4 linked regions of the Homo sapiens genome follow. The protein of the gene in region 3 purifies or fractionates together with the protein of the main gene of each other region. This does not show direct contact. Each region holds a gene or a part of one and is shown on either strand. Other genes may lie near its edges.

Region 1 (3,881 bases), on a different chromosome or scaffold from region 3:
CATGGGTTATTTGAAACTGTATGCTAAGTTTAAGACCCGTGAGTGCTGTTCAAGTCATTAATTCCTCTCCCCAGAAAACAAACCCTGTAGCTGTCTCAGGTGAGATTCACTTAAGGTGGAGACTTAAGCCACGCTGGGCAGAACCGAAAACCCAGGTGTTAGGATTCTCACCCATTCCAGAGGGCAATGTTATCTGCACTGAGGAGAATTCTGATGTCAGAACCAAAGAAACACAAAGAAGAAAATAGCATCCCCTTGACTTTGAAAGAAAGCAGCCCTTTAGGAAAGGCCAAGCCCGTGTCCTCCCTTGCAGTCCCTAGAGCAGCCATGAGGGAGTCAAAGCTTGGGCCTAGTTATTTGAGGCCCAGGAGGGCTTCCCGCCTCTAGTCAGTCACCCCTGCAGTGCCGGCAGAGCTGATAGAGATGGCTGGGTCCCCACCCCTGCATAGAAAGAGCCATCTCTGATCTGTGGTAGACAATGGGCAGGAGAGGAGAGAGGTTCCATTGGGGCGTGGAAGGGACAGTTGGCTGCCTGCGGTTCTCCTATGATAGGGAGAGCAGGGAGAATGCCGTGGGCTCCTAGTCAGCGCCTGTGGGACTGGAAGAGCTTTTCTTGTACTTAATCCCTTCTTCCCCTCCCAGCCCCGGTTCAGCAGCAGGGGACTTCCCTTGGCTTCTCCAACAAAGTCCTTCGCAGTTAGGCCCCTTCTCAGACAATCTTGGAAGATGGAGAAGCAAGAAAAGAATGGAGAGGGAGAATGGAAGAGGTGGACTCAGAAATGCCGCATTTGTGGGTGGAGCTGGGGCTGGGGTGAGAGGAAGCTCCGGGGAAGGCACAGAAACAATCCAAGGGAGGCAGGTCAATTCCACACAGCGGAACATGACTCAGCAGGAAAAAGAAAGGAGCTATCAGACCATAGAAAGACACAGAGCAACCTTAAATGCATGTGGCTAGGGGTAGAAGCTCACGTGAACAGGCTGCATACTCTATAATTCCAACCAAACGACACCCTGGAAAAGACAAAACTATGGAGATGGTGAAAAGAGCAGTGACTGTCACGGGTTAGGGGGAGGGAGGCATGGGTGAATAGATGGAGAACAAGGGTATTTTTTTTTAGACAGAGTTTCGCTCTTGTTGCCCAGGCTGGAGTACAATGGCATGATCTCAGCTCACTGCAACCTCTACCTCCCAGGTTCAAGCAATTCTCGTGCTTCAGCCTCCCAAGTAGCTGCGAATACAGGCATGCGCCACCACATCTGGCTAAATTTTGTACTTTTAGTAGAGATGGGGTTTCACCATGTTGGTCAAGCTGGTCTCGAACTCCTGACCTCAAATGATCTGCCCGCCTCCACCTCCCAAAGTGCTGGGATTACGGGCTCGAGCCACCATGCCCCACCACAAGGGCATTTTTACATCAGAGGAACTATTCTGAATGATTCTGTAGCATGGTGATACATGTCATTCTACATTTGTCAAAACCCATAGGATGCACAACACAAAGAGTGAACTTTAATATAAACTATGAACACTGTAGCTAATAATGAATACAAGTTCATCAGTTGTAACAAAGTGCCATGCTAATGCAACATGCTAATTAGAGGGGGAAATATGCAAAGAAGAGGAGGGATATGGGAATCCCTTTGTGCCTAATTTTTCTGTAAACATAAAACTGCTCTTACAAATAAAGCCTATTAATTAAAACAACAAAATACAAAACAACAACTAAAACCAAAAACAGCCAACACCCAATGGGTTGAGCTGGAGTAAGAACAGGCTGCCCAGCACACTTCCTGGGCCACTGAGCCCTGGGCGTGAAAAGCAAAAGGGCCAGTGAGGTTTGGCTGGGACTCAGCTCCCCAGCCTCTGGCTCAAGCCCGATTACGAACACAAAGGTCATCTGATTGGATTTCCTGTCCCCTCAGCTCACTTAAGGAGGCTTTTCTGTCCACAGCTTTGGTTGCAAAAAGCAATCTGGCTAAAGGGATTTGGGACATCCGGCTGGTGAATGTAGGGGAGGTTTCACCTTTAGATGAGGCACCAGAAACGATGTGCTCCCTGGTAGCATCCTGAGCTGCCCCTCTTGACTTTAATGCTAACCCTGCTGCTTTTCCTCAAGGCTCAGACATCCCATTTCGATGCTTCCAGAAGCACAGCCTGAACCCAGGGACAGGAGCTGCCGCCCTCCCACTGGAGAGACCTCAGAATGGACACAATTGATTCCCAAGTACCCTTAGAGCTCCTGGAAGAGGGTTCCCTTCCCGTCCCCAAGACCAGCGATGCTTCTTGGAGCCAGGTGGCCCCAAAAGGATGGCCTTTGGAGAAAAATAGGCCCCCTTCACGGCCCATCAGCTCCAGGTCAGAGAAGCCACTGGGTTTACACTGCGTGGGGACAGGAGGGTTCTTGATACTGGTCCACATTTAGTGTTCGGTGTGGAAAGCGGAATAAGTCCTCAGCTTCCATGGGATACTGGAATAATCTAGGTAATCTAAGCTCATAACTTACCTTTTCACTATTTACTTTCATATTTTTCCATTCATGTTAAGCATAAAGTTGAAATGTGAGCACATAGCAAAACCTGAGTCTGCATCCCTCTATTTACCCAGTGGTGTGACCTTGAGGAGGTCGAGCTCTCTAAGCCTCAGCGTCTTCAGCTGTGAAACGCAAATTGTGGCAGATCTCCCTGGGATGGTGTTGCCTAAGGGAAATCCCTCCTGGCTTGGGCTCGGGGATGCAGATGCCTAGTGGCAGGCACGCATCCTCGCTTCCTCCCCACAACCTCTCTCCAGCCCCACAACCAACTGTCCCTACCTCCAGCCACTAGGAGGGACACTCTCCATGATACCCCGAGGTCAACTTCCTATGTATCCTGACACAGCACACATTCCTGATAGTCAACCACAGGAGGCTCCGGGCTAAAAACTGGAGTGAGTGGGGAGGAGGGAGGAGGTGATACCACCCTGAGAGAATTCTTGTCCTGCAAAGAGAACTAAACAAATAGTGCTCCAGGCAAAAGCCAGGCTGGTGAAGGAGGCAGGGGATGAAGGAGGGGCTGGGAAGGGGAGATGACAGAGAGGCTTCACAGAGGTCCCGGCGAGCTGATGGGGCCTTGAGAGGCGCCTCTGCAAGGCCTCAAGGTGGGGACATAAAAGGCGCAGGGGAAGTGAAGCTGCTCAGGGCTTGACCCTAGCTCCACACAGAGGCACCTGCCGTGGTGCAAATACACACTGCGCGTTGGGGGGCGGGGGAAGGGGGCGGGGGAGGGCTGTGGCGGACTTGTCCCATGCTCTCACTGCAGCGAGGCAGGTTAATCTGTTTATTTTTTCAAAACAAAACTAAAAATCGCCACTCAATGTATCTGAGCAGAGTGCCTGATCACAGTTAAAAGCTTTCTGTAATGCGCAGCAGGAACGTCATAGCCTGGTGGTCAGAAATGAGTGCTTCTGGCGCTGCTGGACTGTGGCCCGCAGCCTGAGCACCCCTTCTTCTCCTCCCTCTGCTCATATTGTCTTTGTGCTGCCATCCAGTCAGCAGCGGACAGCCAGCCCAATGCTGCTCAGGTCTGTGGCATCCAGAGATAAAAGGCGTCTCCGCTCCCCGCAGGTTTCTGCTTTGCCCACCTGGTGGGGTACGCGCCTGGCACGCCACCCCCACTGGAGGTCCTGAATGGTCCACAGAGAAGGCGTGGGGCAAGGCCTCAAGTGCTGATGCTCTGAGAATAAAAATTAAAAGGCAGCTCTGCCCTGAAGCGTCACCCCACAGGGCTCATTCCTTGGCTGTGCCCTCCTGGGTCCCAGGGTGGACACATGGATTTGGTGTCATCATCGCTCGTGCTTGATGTTGGCTTCACTTCGCTCCAAGGCCACCCCGCTGCCGTTCCGA
Region 2 (4,488 bases), on a different chromosome or scaffold from region 3:
TTTAAAGAGTGTTTTTTATTTAAAAAAAGAATTGTTAAATCTATTTTATCCACCTTCCAATGTTAAGCTTCAAGTTTAGGAGGCTATTGGTATTTTTTCAAATGATGTGTATGGTCAATACTTGATTATGTTCCCCAAAGGATGGAGTAGGTAACAAAGACAACAAATTACCAAATAACTGAACAGTCACTTAATTTTGGAAAACAGTCTAGAAATTTCAGATCAAAGATAGCTATTTACTCCCCATTCACCATGCAAACCTTTACACACTTGAAGTGTACTGGGATCCTGGACTCTGGCTGGCTGGCAGAGCAAAGGGGCGAGGCTTGTCACAGATAATCCACAAATAAATCAGAATGACCAAATATTTTTCTCTTTTCAAATTCCTATTCAGTCTGATTCTGACCACAATGCTGAAAAAGAATACACCAAGTACCAAGTAGTTGACAGATTGCAAAACTGCGAGAGAAGGAAAAAAGTTATACTGGTCCTAAATATGATGATGAAAGCACACTGAGAAAAAACTCACAAACTATACAAGGTGTTGCTTCTTTGGTTCTAGAGACATAAGCATGTGAAGCAGAGACACACATTAGTAGATTTAAGGAGAAACCACTGCCAGACTACTCACAAGTAGCTCTCTAGCCTCTACAGTAAATATTATTATTAAGGATGAGATTGATAACTCAAGCTGAAACTATATCAAGCAAGTACAAACTCTGTTGTTTAGTAAAATAAAGTAGAAAAATGACTACTGATATTTCAATACTCAGGTCTTCGATTTATCCATTCAAAACAAAATAAACACCATGTAGGCAGTATGGTAATATTAACTTTTAGTATTTAGTCATAGCTACTTTCCTGGATTTAAGTGTTAATGTTAAAATACATTATCACTCTAGATATGATGAATCTCTGTGTCTTAAGTGATACTTTAAAATCCAAATCCCATTTATGAAGCAAAACTTCATTATCTAGAGTATATTTTCATTCCTTGAAAATGATCTAAAATATTCACTTGTTGATACTTCAGTATTTCAAGTTATAGATCATATATTCAGAAAAGAATTAGGGGAAAGAATCAGCCTCCAATATTCACAAATGTGTAATGGAAAATAACAGCCCTAAATACTCCTGTGCACTGCTTAATATTCTGCCAAATTCCTCTGCTGTAGCAGAAGTCATTAAAACAAAAACAAAGCACATTATAAAAAAACGAGTTTAAGTCAAGTGAAAGTATTATATGACATTGAGAGCTTCTTAAAAATACCTTTTTAACTCAGTTATGAAAAAAGCAAATATAGGTAATCAAAAAATAAAATATAAACAACAAAAACAATTTTGCTCCAATACAACTAAATACATATTCTTAACAATTTGTAACTGCTTTTAAGAAATCATCTATATTATAATTAGCTAAATGTTTTTATAGATATGGGATGTTAAGATGGAATGTGTATACTGATTCCTACTCAAAAAAGGGATTCCTAACTTCCTGTTTCAGATCTTCACAATTCTCACATAAACTCAAAACCCACAATACCCTTAATATTGTGAATGTGAAGTACTGACTCTCTGGAGAAAGACTTATCTTGAAGTAAGTTGCTTTTCCTTTGAAAATGACCTTTGATTCCTTTGAAAAGCAACTTTGTCAACATTACATGTCTAGAATAATGAAACAACCATTCATCCTGATTTGGATATGAGTTAGAAGAGGTAGAAAAAAACAAAACTAAAACAATCCTCCCCTCACAAACCTCAATCCTACTTCATTATTTTTCCCTTAAATTTAGCTATTTTAAAACACGAATAATTTTGCTATATTTTATGGAGCATTCCCCATCAAGATTAAAGAAGGGCTTATTCAGAGACAAACAGGATACAGGAGTAATGGTGCAGCTTCCAGGCAAGCTATAAATAGCTGCAGCATTTTCAAGAAATCTTGTGCCAGTGTGTAAGTTGCAGTTAAAACATGCAGTGCAGATTTTATTACAATAGTGTCACCAAAATTCATTGTTAAGTGAGAAAATCAATTCTTACCAAGTTTTCTTGGTTCCTGGCTGCTATTTTCTGCTCTTCTTCTGCCCCATTTTTCATGTATTTGACCTCTTCCACTGGTTTGATCCTATACTCATCTGAGTGCCAAAAAAAGAAAACACATTTTATAATTTTTTTCCCAATAGTAGAAAAGTGTCAGTCAGAAAATCCCAATAGTGTAATTTGCTAGACCCTTTCACCTGTGGCCTTCATATGTGGTTCATTTGGAACAATCTGGAAGAAGCTTAACTAGGCATCTTAGATCTTTTTATGAGCCCCTCTCCTCTGTCTACTAGAAAAAGCTCAGCATCACGAATGCTTCTAATCAAAGTGTCACTGCCTGGTCCTTCCACAGAGAGCAAATGCTGCAGAGGAAACAGGATACTCCATCTCTAAAGACTTTTTGAAATGTATGTTACACTAGGACATATCACAGAACTGTCTGATAAGATTCAAGAGAATATTCTTATTTTTCTCCAAGAGAGTATTAGTCCAAAATGCCTGTGCCAACAATTTTCAGTGACATATTCATTCTTTAATTTCCCTTTTGAAAAAACAGAGTAAGACTAAAGAGTTATATTGATAAATAGAAACAACTGAAGAATTGAGACTTTTCTTTCTGTGATCCCTATATTAAATTTTAGCAGTCTGCAATTATTTCACATTAATATATATATTTATTTCATATATATATTTATTTCATATATATGTATATATACACTTTAATTCAATCTCTCTGTAAAGTCATATGCATGAAGAGCTATTATACCTAACAGATGAAATGGTAGGTACATCAGTCAAGGCTGGAGAGTATAGTGGGATGTGGATGGGACCTAGCCTCCGCAACAGCCAGACAGAGAACACAGATCCCAGTATCAATATACACCATAGAACAAACTCAGGAAAACTTGCAGCTTCAGTTCTCCAGAAGACTGATCACTATGATGACATTTCCATCAGATTCCTGTCAACAGGAAATGATTTGAGCGCACTAAAGTCAAAAATAGGTGTGACTCTGAATCATTCTTAACCCAATCTGTGGGAAACATCACAGAAATTGTGAAATTAGAAAATATCATCAACCAACAAACTAACGATTGTCTGGCATATAGCATGAAGTAATGTCTAACTATAGGAACCACCTGAAAGACAGCTGTCTATCACTAAGAGAGTTTATATTTCAGTTCAGAAAGTTGCAATATATTTTCTTATTAACTATGATTAAATGGGTAAAAAGACTATACTCTTATTTAATTTCTTATCTTAGTATCTATAACACCACTTTCTAATATAGTTTCAGGTTTCCTCATCATATCACCCCTTAACACACAACTCCCAAAGATGTTCGTTACAGTAATATTTCTGCAAGTAATTATGCTGTTCAAATGTTTCTCAAAATTATCATTCTTAAGAATGTAATACATTTGCATGTATCTGAATAAAGACTTCATGTTCACTAAGCCAACTGTTTTTTCCACCTGACAATTTAGAGTTATTATTGATTCTATTTTTTTGTAAAGATATTAGAAAGACTAGTGTGAGGTTCAGTAATGAGCCCTTTAGGAATACCAGGTCCTAAATATATTAACAAGTTAATCAGCAGATTCTGATCCACAATTACAATACAAAAGAATTCTACATACCAACTTGGTATTTCGAAGAGACAAAAATGAATGTAAATTAATAATACTGACAAATTTGATGAAGGATTATTTACTGAGAATTTGGAAAAACAATTGCTAATTAAAAAAGAGAAGACACTGACAAATTTGCCCCCAACACAATTACACAGAGATAAAAATAAAAGGTAAAAAAAAAAGGTAAAAATGGGCCTCCCTAACTTCAGTTTGGGACATTAATATTTATAAATCCTGGCAGACTGAGATAATTACTCTTAATAATTTTTTTGTTTGTTTGTTTTTTCAGACAGAGTTTCATTCTACTGCCCAGGCTGGAGTGTGATGGTGTGATCTCGGCTCACTGCAACCTCCGCCTCCCGGGTTCAAGCAATTCTCCTGCCTCAGCCTCCTAACTAGCTGGGATTACAGGCGCCTGCTACCATGCCTGGCTAATTTTTTGTATTTTTAGTAGAGACGGGTTTTACCATGTTGGCCAGGGTGGTCTCGAACTCCTGACCTCAGGTGATCCATCTGCCTCGGCCTCCCAAAGTACTGAGATTACAGGCGTGAGCCATCATGCCTGGCCTACTATTAATAAACTTTAACTGAACTAAATTGTGAACTTAATTGCTAATGGTGAGTTTCTAATTATTTAAATACACAGAACACTGATATAAATATATATAGGTGAATATATACATGTCTATATATATATGGCATGTGTGTATATATATATATATATATATATATATATATATATTTCTTTATGTATCACAAGTGGATTCTATGATTTTGTCTGTAGGATGGGGAAGAGGGTAACATTTTTGGACCT
Region 3 (4,488 bases):
GTCAGGAGTTTGAGACCAGCCTGGGCAACAGAATTAAACCCTGTCTCCACCAAAAAATACAAAAATTAGCCAGGCATGGTGGCGTGCGCCTGTAGTCCCAGCTACTCGGGAGGCTAAGGCAGGAGAATCACTTGAACCTGGGAGGGGGAGGTTGCAGTGAGCCAAGATCATGCCACTGCCCTCCAGCCTGGGCAACAGAGCAAGACTCCATCTCAAAAAAAAAATTGTTTTGATCTGTTGGTCTCATAGAGACACTTATCAATGGTAGATTTCCAAACCTTTGGTTTTCCAGAGAAACCTTGCCACAAGAAACACTTTCATCTTTCCTCACTGGACTTTCTTCTGGCTATTTTAATCAAATTGTGTAGGAAAATGGGCTGCTCTCATATACCAGTGAATTTCACCACTAAGACCTTCAATCTCATTGACAAGATTTTAGTCCTAATAGTTAGAGAATGATGTTCTTTTCCTTGGCATTTGGTTTGAGGCTACTTCTCCATGCCCCTTTGGCTCATTCTGGGTCCAGTCCAGTCAGGAGATAGAAACCATACAGTGATTTTTATACAAGGAAAAGTTAAAGAATTGTTATACTTTCATAAAAGAGTAACTATAAGATGTAAGGGGCTGGGCGTGTCAGCTCATGCCTGTAATCTCAGCATTTTAGGAGGCTGAGGCAGGAGCATCACTTGAGGTCAGTGGTTTGTAATCAGCCTGGGTAACATAGCAAGACCCTGTCTCTAGTATATAAAACAAATTAATGAATTAATTAAAAAGATAAGAAAACTGTATTTGGTACCTAGAATTACGGGAAAGTACTCAAAGAAGGACAATTTGAAAGAGAGTTTCTCCCAAAGACTGGGGTTCAGACCTCATTAGAGAAGGCGTGATTGTGCACTTGCCCAAAGCTTCATCACCGAGGAGTGATATCGGAGGCTTCACATTCCATGGGAAATAGACTTTGATAAATTGCTTAGCCAAGTCACTAAACAAACAAGTGAACAACAATGAAAACAAGCTCAGGAGAGGATTCTGTATCTAGAGTTGCTGCAATATATTACCTAAAATGTTAACTTTTCAACAAAAAGAAATTGCAAGTCATGCAAAAAAACAAAAACAAAAAAACAGGAAAATGTGACCTATACACAGGACACAAAGGAGGAACCAGAAACTATGAGAGGGTAGATGAATTAAATCGTCTTATTTCTCCCCTCAATTCTGTTAGGTTTTTTTTTTTCCTTTCTCTTTCTTTTTTCTTTTTTCGAGACAGGGTCTTATTCTGTTACCCAGACTGGAGTGCATTGCAGCCTCCTGGGCTCAATCATCCTCCCATCTCAGCCTCCTGTGTAGCTGGGACTACAGGCACACACCACCACACCCAGCTAATTTTGTATTTTTTTGTGCAGTTAGAGTTTCGCCATGTTGTCCAGGCTGGTCTTTGAACTTCTGGGCTTAGGTGATCAGCCTGCCTCAGTCTCCCAAAGTGCTGGGATTACAAGCACGAGCCATTGTGCTCAGCCCTAATTCTGTCATTTTTAATATGACATGTATCTATAGGAATATTAGAAACCAATGAGTATATGCCTTGGTGTACGTCTGATGGTAAATAGACAAGGGAACATAGACATCAAGGAACATCTAAATTCCATGTTTGTTCTTATCACCATCTTATGCTAAAGAGCAGCTGGATTGATTCCTGGGGCCAAATATTAACCACCTTGTTCACAGCTGTCACTTACAGATGGGTGGGGAAGCATTTCTATCCAGAGCATTATCACTAGGTTCCAGCCTTTTTTCATTCTCTTTTCATCCTTTCACACTTCTCTGGGTATACCTGTTTTTCCTTTTTCTGTGACCTATAGTGAAACATACATAGAATAGAATGGAATTTGGAGGGAATAAACTACATACAGCTGAGATATCTTCTTGGTCTGTTTCACATGATTTAGTAGCTTAGAACATGGTTCAAGTACTGAGCAGTTTATATTGGTCAAGATAGTGTAATGATTAAGACCCAGGAAACAGACTGCTTGGGTTCAGATCCCAAATCTGTCACATTCTTGTGTAATCTTTGGCAAATTACAAGTTTAACCTCTGTGCTTCAATTACCCTCATCTATAAAGTAGGGAGAATTATAGTATTGTAAGGATTAAATGAATTTATACCAGCAAAGTGCTTGGAGCACTGCCTGGCAGGGTTACCACTCAATAAATTAGCCTTTTGACTACAAATGAAGAAATCAACTCATACTGGTTTAAGCTAAAATGGGAATTTTTTTTTTTTTTTGGCTAATGTAAAGAAACGTCTAGGGAAGGAAGAGCTTCAAACATGGTTGGCCTCAGGTACTCAAATGATGTCACCAAGAAATCGCTTTCTATCTTGGTTCCACTTGACTGTGTAGGCTTCATTCTCAGACAGGTTCCTTTATAAGGTTCAGGATGGCCACCAGCAATACAGGGCTTGCTTAGACCCTTCACTGGGTTTAGCAAGCCCAGTGAAATGAAAGTACCTTTCCTAATAGTTCCTGTCAAAGGCCCAGGATTGTGTATCTCATGTTGGGACTTGGATCGCATAGCATTGCTGACGCTGTCAACACAGCTGTCCACATTTGGGTTTTATGCCTAACCCTGACAGTGGGGTCAGCTCTATTTGAACCACCTGGGCTAAGAGTAAGGGAAGAGTCGCCCAAAGGAAAGTTGAGTTGTCATTTCCAGGTGAAGAGGCATTGAATTCTGGACAAGAAAAAAGTCACAGTTCTTTCTATCTGGAGAAATGAGGTTTTTCTGAGAGTTTGTTGGTATTTTTTCTTATGTTTAGGTCTTACCCTCCTTCTTTCTTGGTAGAAGCTATGCTCATTTCATGACTATCTTTTTTCCCAGTTCAGATGGCATCACCTTGACTTGTATTGTCCTAAATATTTTTTTCCTTCCTGCACTCTGACCTGTGACATAGAAAGAGCTTCATAGATATTCTGACCTCAGTTTGTTTTTCTGTTTTAATCTATTCTGACAAGCTTTGTTCTCTGGTCTTAGATTTTAGTTCTCCTAGCTCGATACTTCTTTTTTCTATATTTAGTCATCCATATATCTTCTAGACTTTCTATGTGTCCTCCTTGTTATAGCTTTTAACAGCCCACCTGATAGCAAACTAGCCATCTTACCCTCTTAAAACATCTCTGTTTGGGGGATAAAGCATTTATATTTTGCATATTAAATTACATTTAATGCTGTAACTCAGACTTCCTGTTTTGGAGATTACTACTAAAAACGCAATCACCTTTTAGGAAAGAAATTATTTTGTGATAAATTTATTATTTAAAAAATATTGAATATTGTTGTTTTTGTAAAAGTTGTGTTTCATTTATCCTAATTTATGATTTTTTTTTCTTGTTAAAAGTCAGAGCAACCTCTGTCCTTCCCAGATATGGTCCACCGTGCCTATTTAAAGGACACTTGAGCACCAAAAGTAATGGTAAGTGAGGTGCTTAAAACGGCAGCTTTGTTAGAAGATTGTCTGAGTGTTTCCTTTACTGGCAAATTATATGACATGATGGAAAAATTGTTTCATTTGACGAATATTTGAACTTCATATTATTAATTTTAATGAAATATAGGCGTTCTTGAGATTAGAGAATTTTGGAGTCTATGATTTCAAACTATTATTGTGCCCTGGATGTGGACTTGGCTGTCTCCTGCTCCCAGCTGCTACAGCAGCCCAGCTCTACTTTTGCCAGGAAACTACCCTGATTTAAGGCATACCTGCCTTGTTAAAATGGTGAGTAGCAGGTATTAAAGACGCAAGCACTGAAAAGGAAAAGCTGTGCAGAGAAAAAGAGCACTTGAATAATACATTTCCTATTAGGAGCAAAGGCCTATGGGCCTCTTTATCCAACTGGATTTCTAGGTGCTGTGATATTTTTATATTTTAAAGCTTTCAAGGTACATTTTTAAGGTAGGTTTTAAAATAAATTTTTGTAATTATACCTTAGAAGTATAAGTCTATGTCCTTAGGCAAAATAATTAAAGCCTTATTTTCCTTATTTACAGGAAAAATCTTTGATACTGTTACCTCCAAATGTGGTGGAAGGATCTCATTTTCAGTTGCCTCACTTATTTCTTTGTATTACAGTGTATTTTTTAAAGTTTATGATTGTGGCTATGTATGTATGTAACATATATATGTATGTAACATAGCCATAATGATAAACTTTAAAAACTAAATTTTAAATAAAAAGTTAAAACTAGATTTAAAATATACATACATAGAAATCAGGATAAAGAACAATATGTAAAGTTTGCTAACTTTCTTTTAAAGAATATATATATAGAGCTGGTATAGGTATGGTGGTTTTAAGTATGAGGCTGCCTTGGATCACATGGAAGCTGCATCCTTTATCAGCAGTGTAACCTTGAAGATGTAACTCATATCTCTGTGCCTCAGTTTTCACTTCGATTAAATGATAATAATAATGACTAGATAAGTTTATACATA
Region 4 (4,488 bases), on a different chromosome or scaffold from region 3:
ACATTTGTCTCATCCCCCTGCTGTTGACTATTTGTAGTGGTCTCATTTTGAGTCTAAATTGAAACAATTTTAAATTGGTGTCTATCAGGTTTTTCTTAAAAATTTTCAACAGCTACATGTCCTGTTAGAATATATTTCCCTTTAAAAGAATAAGTTAAACTGAGCAGCTGCTATTCAGACGGTTTGCTGTGCCTGTAAAGGGTATGCTATTCAGCCACCTAGCCATTTAAAAAAAAACAAAAAACCTAGAAGATGCATATTCTGTAAGCATAATGCTTTTCTTCAGTGATTAAACCTCTATTAATATGTGTGTTAATCCTATGAAGTACTATATTTCTACACAGTTAAAATGTATTAGTGGAAAAAATATAAAAGGGATTGTGAAGTGCATTTATTGCTGTAGTAAATTAAGTCCTGGTTAGCTGATTATCAAAACATTATCTGATTTACATTTCTATAGGCTTATGGACATATGAACAGGAAATTAATTTTGGAAGTAGGTTCAGTTGGGTTTTTAAGCTCAGCAAATGAGAAAACCACATCTCTGCTCATATTAACTGCTCTCCATACAGGAGATCATCAAGCATTTGTTGACTTACCCAGTGGATAAAATATTAAAACTTTGAAACCAAGAAACCAAATATGTTGTTTAGGTATTTATCATTTTTATACAGTTAACTCCTTATAGGGATTACTGTGAAAGTGGTTAAGATTTTCTCTAGTTTTATGTTTATTTGCTTAAGCATTTGGCAAGGGCAGCTGTGTGGTCATGTAGCCGACTACTACTCCCAGCCCTTTCCTCTCCCATTGCATTCAGCTCACTCCTACATTCTGTTCTGACCAGGACGGTAGATACTGAGCACCTCAGGGTTTCATTCCCAACTCAGAAGAAACACTGAGTTTTTAAGTCCAGTGACCTACCATAAGTCATATCATAAAATGGGTTTAGTCTAGCCAAGACATCCACCTTTGATCTTTCTGCCTTCCAAAGTTTAAAGAGTATCCTCACCCTGTCATAGTGACAATTTCTCACCTTCATAATATTAAAGTGAGCAGAAACTTGCATTATGCCCTTTGACATAGCCTCATGCGCCGGGACAGGGGGAGGGGATTCCCTTCCCCTGTAATGTAGCTTGCTTATTTATTTATTTGAGATGAATCCTTGTTGCCTCAAGAGTTTTTCCCCCTCAGAGATAATAGCAGTGGCTCTTGATGGATCCATTTGTTGCCGTGGTGATATGCCTACTCCTTTTGTTGGTGCTTCTCTACTTCAATAAGCCCCTTCCTGTTATCAGCCTGGTGAAAATGTCTGCAAGTTCTTCAGAGCTAATAAACAGCATACATCATTCCTTTCATCTGATCACTATAGTGGGGCCTTGTGAGTGAGCGTGAAGTATGAATTGTACAGCTGCACTAATGGAACTCTGAAGAATGAGGCCCGAGTCAGCAGCACAAGTGCATCGGAGGCCGTAACCTTCAACCTTCATCCCAGTTCCAGAGTGCTGGGATGCAGAAGGGACCACAAGTAACTGTACCTTATGTGAACATTAGTATGTTAATACAACTGGGTAGCCTATATTTTAAAATAGAGTTTAGAGCCATTCTAGTCTCTTAGAATGATATTTTTGAAGATAGCCCAGTTGACTGACATTGTCCTGTGCTGGTTCTGTTGTGTTCTTCCTCCTCCAGGAATGAAATGGAAAGGCATTTTCTGGAGCTTCTTCAGTTTAATATTAATGTTCCTGCCAGTGTTTATGCCAAATACTACTTTGACCTTCGCTCCTTAGCAGATGACAACAACCTGAATTTTCTATTTGCTCCTCTTAGCAAAGAAAGAGCACAGAACCTAGAGGTAAGGCTATGAAGTCACTAAGTGAGGTTTTCCATCAGCCACCAAAGCCAACATCTGTGACTAAATCATATTAAGTAGTGATTAGGAAAATGGAAAGCTTTAAAATTAACTAACACTGAAGAGCTTATTAGCCCTTTGGCGTCAGATTTCCTGTGTCTTGTATGGTTTATACAAGGATCAACATTATTTAAAAATTATACATATTAACTCTTCTGTGACCATAATTCAGAATATTTTAAATCAAATTTAATCTGTTGTTAATGAGGTTTCCTTTTGAACTTCTACCCTTTCACATAACCATACATGAATAATTTTTTTAGCTGGGCACTGTGGCTCATGTCTGTAATCCCAGCACTTTGGGAGGCTGAGGTGGGCAGATCACTTGAGGTCAGGAGTTCAAGACCAGCCTGGCGAACATGGTGAAACCCTGTCCCTACTAAAAATACACACACAGGCCGGGCGCGGTGGCTTACGCCTGTAAGCCCAGCACTTTGGGAGGCCGAGGAGGGCAGATCACCTGAGGTTGGGAGTTCAAGACCAGCCTGACCAACATGGAGAAACCCCGTCTCTACTAAAAATACAAAATTAGCCGGCCGTGGTGGCGCATGCCTGTAATCCCAGCTACTCGGGAGGCTGAGGCAGGAGAATCGCTTGAACCCGGGAGGCGGAGGTTGTGGTGAGCTGAAATCGTGCCATTGCACTCCAGCCTGGGCAACAAGAGCGAAACTCCATCTCAAAAAAAAAAAAAAAAAGTACACACACACAAAAATACAGGCATGGGGGTGCATGCCTGTAATCCCAGCTACTTGGGAGGCTGAGGCATGAGCATCGCTTGAACCTGGGAGGCGGAGGTTGCAGTGAGCCAAGATTGCACCGCTGCACTCTAGCCTAGGTGACGGAGTGAGATTGTGTCTCCAAAAAAAAAAAATTTTTTCTTTGCGACTGTATTCCTAATTTTATCTACATACATAATTCACTTGCCACTCTTGACTGTCTTACTTACTGTTTGCAAATTCATGTCATGGTTTATGTATCACAGTGCAGTCCCATGAGTTTTTTAGACAAAGGATTAGTGGATAAGCCAAGAGACCTATACCCTTCACTGTATAGGATGCAGGTGTTTCAAATGCTGGATGTAAGTGGTAGGCATGGTGGCTCACACCTGTAATTCCAGCATTTTGGGAGGCCGAGGCAGGTGGATCACTTGAGATCAGGACTTCAAGACCAGCCTTACCAACACAGAGAAACCCGGTCTCTACTAAAAATTCAAAAATTAGCCGGGCGTGGTGGCAGACGCCCAGTTACTCAGGAGGCTGAGGCATGAGAATTGCTTGAACCCGGGAGGCGGAGGCTGCAGTGAGCCGAGATCATGCCACTGCACTCCAGCCTGGGCGATAGAGCAAGACCCTTGTCTCAAAAAAAAAAAAATAATAATGTAGGAAGTACATGGGTTTTTAATAGAAATGGTAACTTTATGGGGCAAAGTAATATTTATGGCTTATGACTCTTGGTGAGTATACAGCAGAATTACAACTGAAATGGACACATATTTTAAACTAACACTTTCTGTGGTACCTTGGTGGTACTTTAGAATAATATGTATTTCTAGGCTGGGCTCAGTGGCACATGCCTGAGAGTGGCTCATGCCTCAGAGGCTCATTCCTCCCAGCACTTTGGGAGGCCGAGGCAGGCGGGATCACCTGAGGTCAGGAGTTTGAGACCAGCCTGGCCAACATGGTGAAACCCTGTCTCTACTAAAAATACAAAAAATTAGCTGGGTATGGTGGCACATGCCTGTAATCCTAGCTACTTGGGAGGCTGAGGCAGGAGAATCGCTTGAACCTGGGAGATAGAGGTTGCAATGAGCTGAGATCACTCCAGCCTGGGCAACGAGCGAAACTCTGCCTCAAAAAAAAAAAAGAAAAAAATAATAATATGTATTTCTACCATAATTAACGTGCATGTGAAGTAATACCTTTTGGCGCGTCAGTCATCAGACCGCTCATATGTTCCAGTATAGTCCAGCACACACCTGCCTCATTAAAATGTGCTTTGAGTATATAATAGCTAATAAGGATTGGGTAGAATTTGAATAGCTGAATAAACATTTTTTTGCACAAGTGTACGTTTGTTATATTTAAGGAATAAGTTAACAGATAACAGATGCTATTGCTGTTAGGAGCCCTATCACAATACCTTTGATATCTTTGGGAATCCAGTTTTTTAATAATATAATAAATTCCCCTTTGTTCTCTGGGAATCTAACCATAGCCCTTAAAGGATATTACCTTGGTGAACTGTCAGGAAGTAGTGTCCCCACAACCTGGCAGTGTAAAACTCAGCCAAAGTAGCTGTAACTGTGAACTATCTAAAGGAGTCCACATGTGTGGCTTTCACAATGGTGCTCTTTCAAAGGCGGGAACCCTTTTTAAAATTGTACCTGTTTTCTATTTGATTGACTTTCCTAGGCTATTTCTAGATTGTGTGAAGACAAAGACTTGTGTAGAGCCGCTATGAGAAGGTCTTTCAGTGCTGATAACTTCATTGGTATTCAGCGCTCTAAAGCCATCCTCTCTTAAAAGGAGAAATGAGGGGTTATAACGTCATGGGACCTTCATCTACAAAGACTGGAGAAA

The links.
Region 1: the proteins of SPATA7 (region 3) and EEPD1 purify together in Homo sapiens (affinity purification with mass spectrometry; one large-scale study listed by BioGRID and IntAct). This does not show direct contact.
Region 2: the proteins of SPATA7 (region 3) and C1orf21 purify together in Homo sapiens (affinity purification with mass spectrometry; one large-scale study listed by BioGRID and IntAct). This does not show direct contact.
Region 4: the proteins of SPATA7 (region 3) and CCNYL1 purify together in Homo sapiens (affinity purification with mass spectrometry; one large-scale study listed by BioGRID and IntAct). This does not show direct contact.

What each region holds. Positions count from the first base shown.
Region 1 is NC_000007.14:36,299,146-36,303,026, reverse strand, and holds the end of EEPD1 (endonuclease/exonuclease/phosphatase family domain-containing protein 1), read right to left. Parts: coding exon 3,821-3,881; 3' UTR 1,489-3,820; downstream 1-1,488.
Region 2 is NC_000001.11:184,505,235-184,509,722, reverse strand, and holds part of C1orf21 (uncharacterized protein C1orf21), read right to left. Parts: intron 2,136-4,488; coding exon 2,041-2,135; intron 1-2,040.
Region 3 is NC_000014.9:88,387,988-88,392,475, forward strand, and holds part of SPATA7 (spermatogenesis-associated protein 7), read left to right. Parts: intron 1-3,393; coding exon 3,394-3,468; intron 3,469-4,488. UniProt on the Homo sapiens protein: Involved in the maintenance of both rod and cone photoreceptor cells.
Region 4 is NC_000002.12:207,749,268-207,753,755, forward strand, and holds part of CCNYL1 (cyclin-Y-like protein 1), read left to right. Parts: intron 1-1,689; coding exon 1,690-1,852; intron 1,853-4,320; coding exon 4,321-4,431; 3' UTR 4,432-4,488. UniProt on the Homo sapiens protein: Key regulator of Wnt signaling implicated in various biological processes including male fertility, embryonic neurogenesis and cortex development. Activates the cyclin-dependent kinase CDK16, and promotes sperm maturation.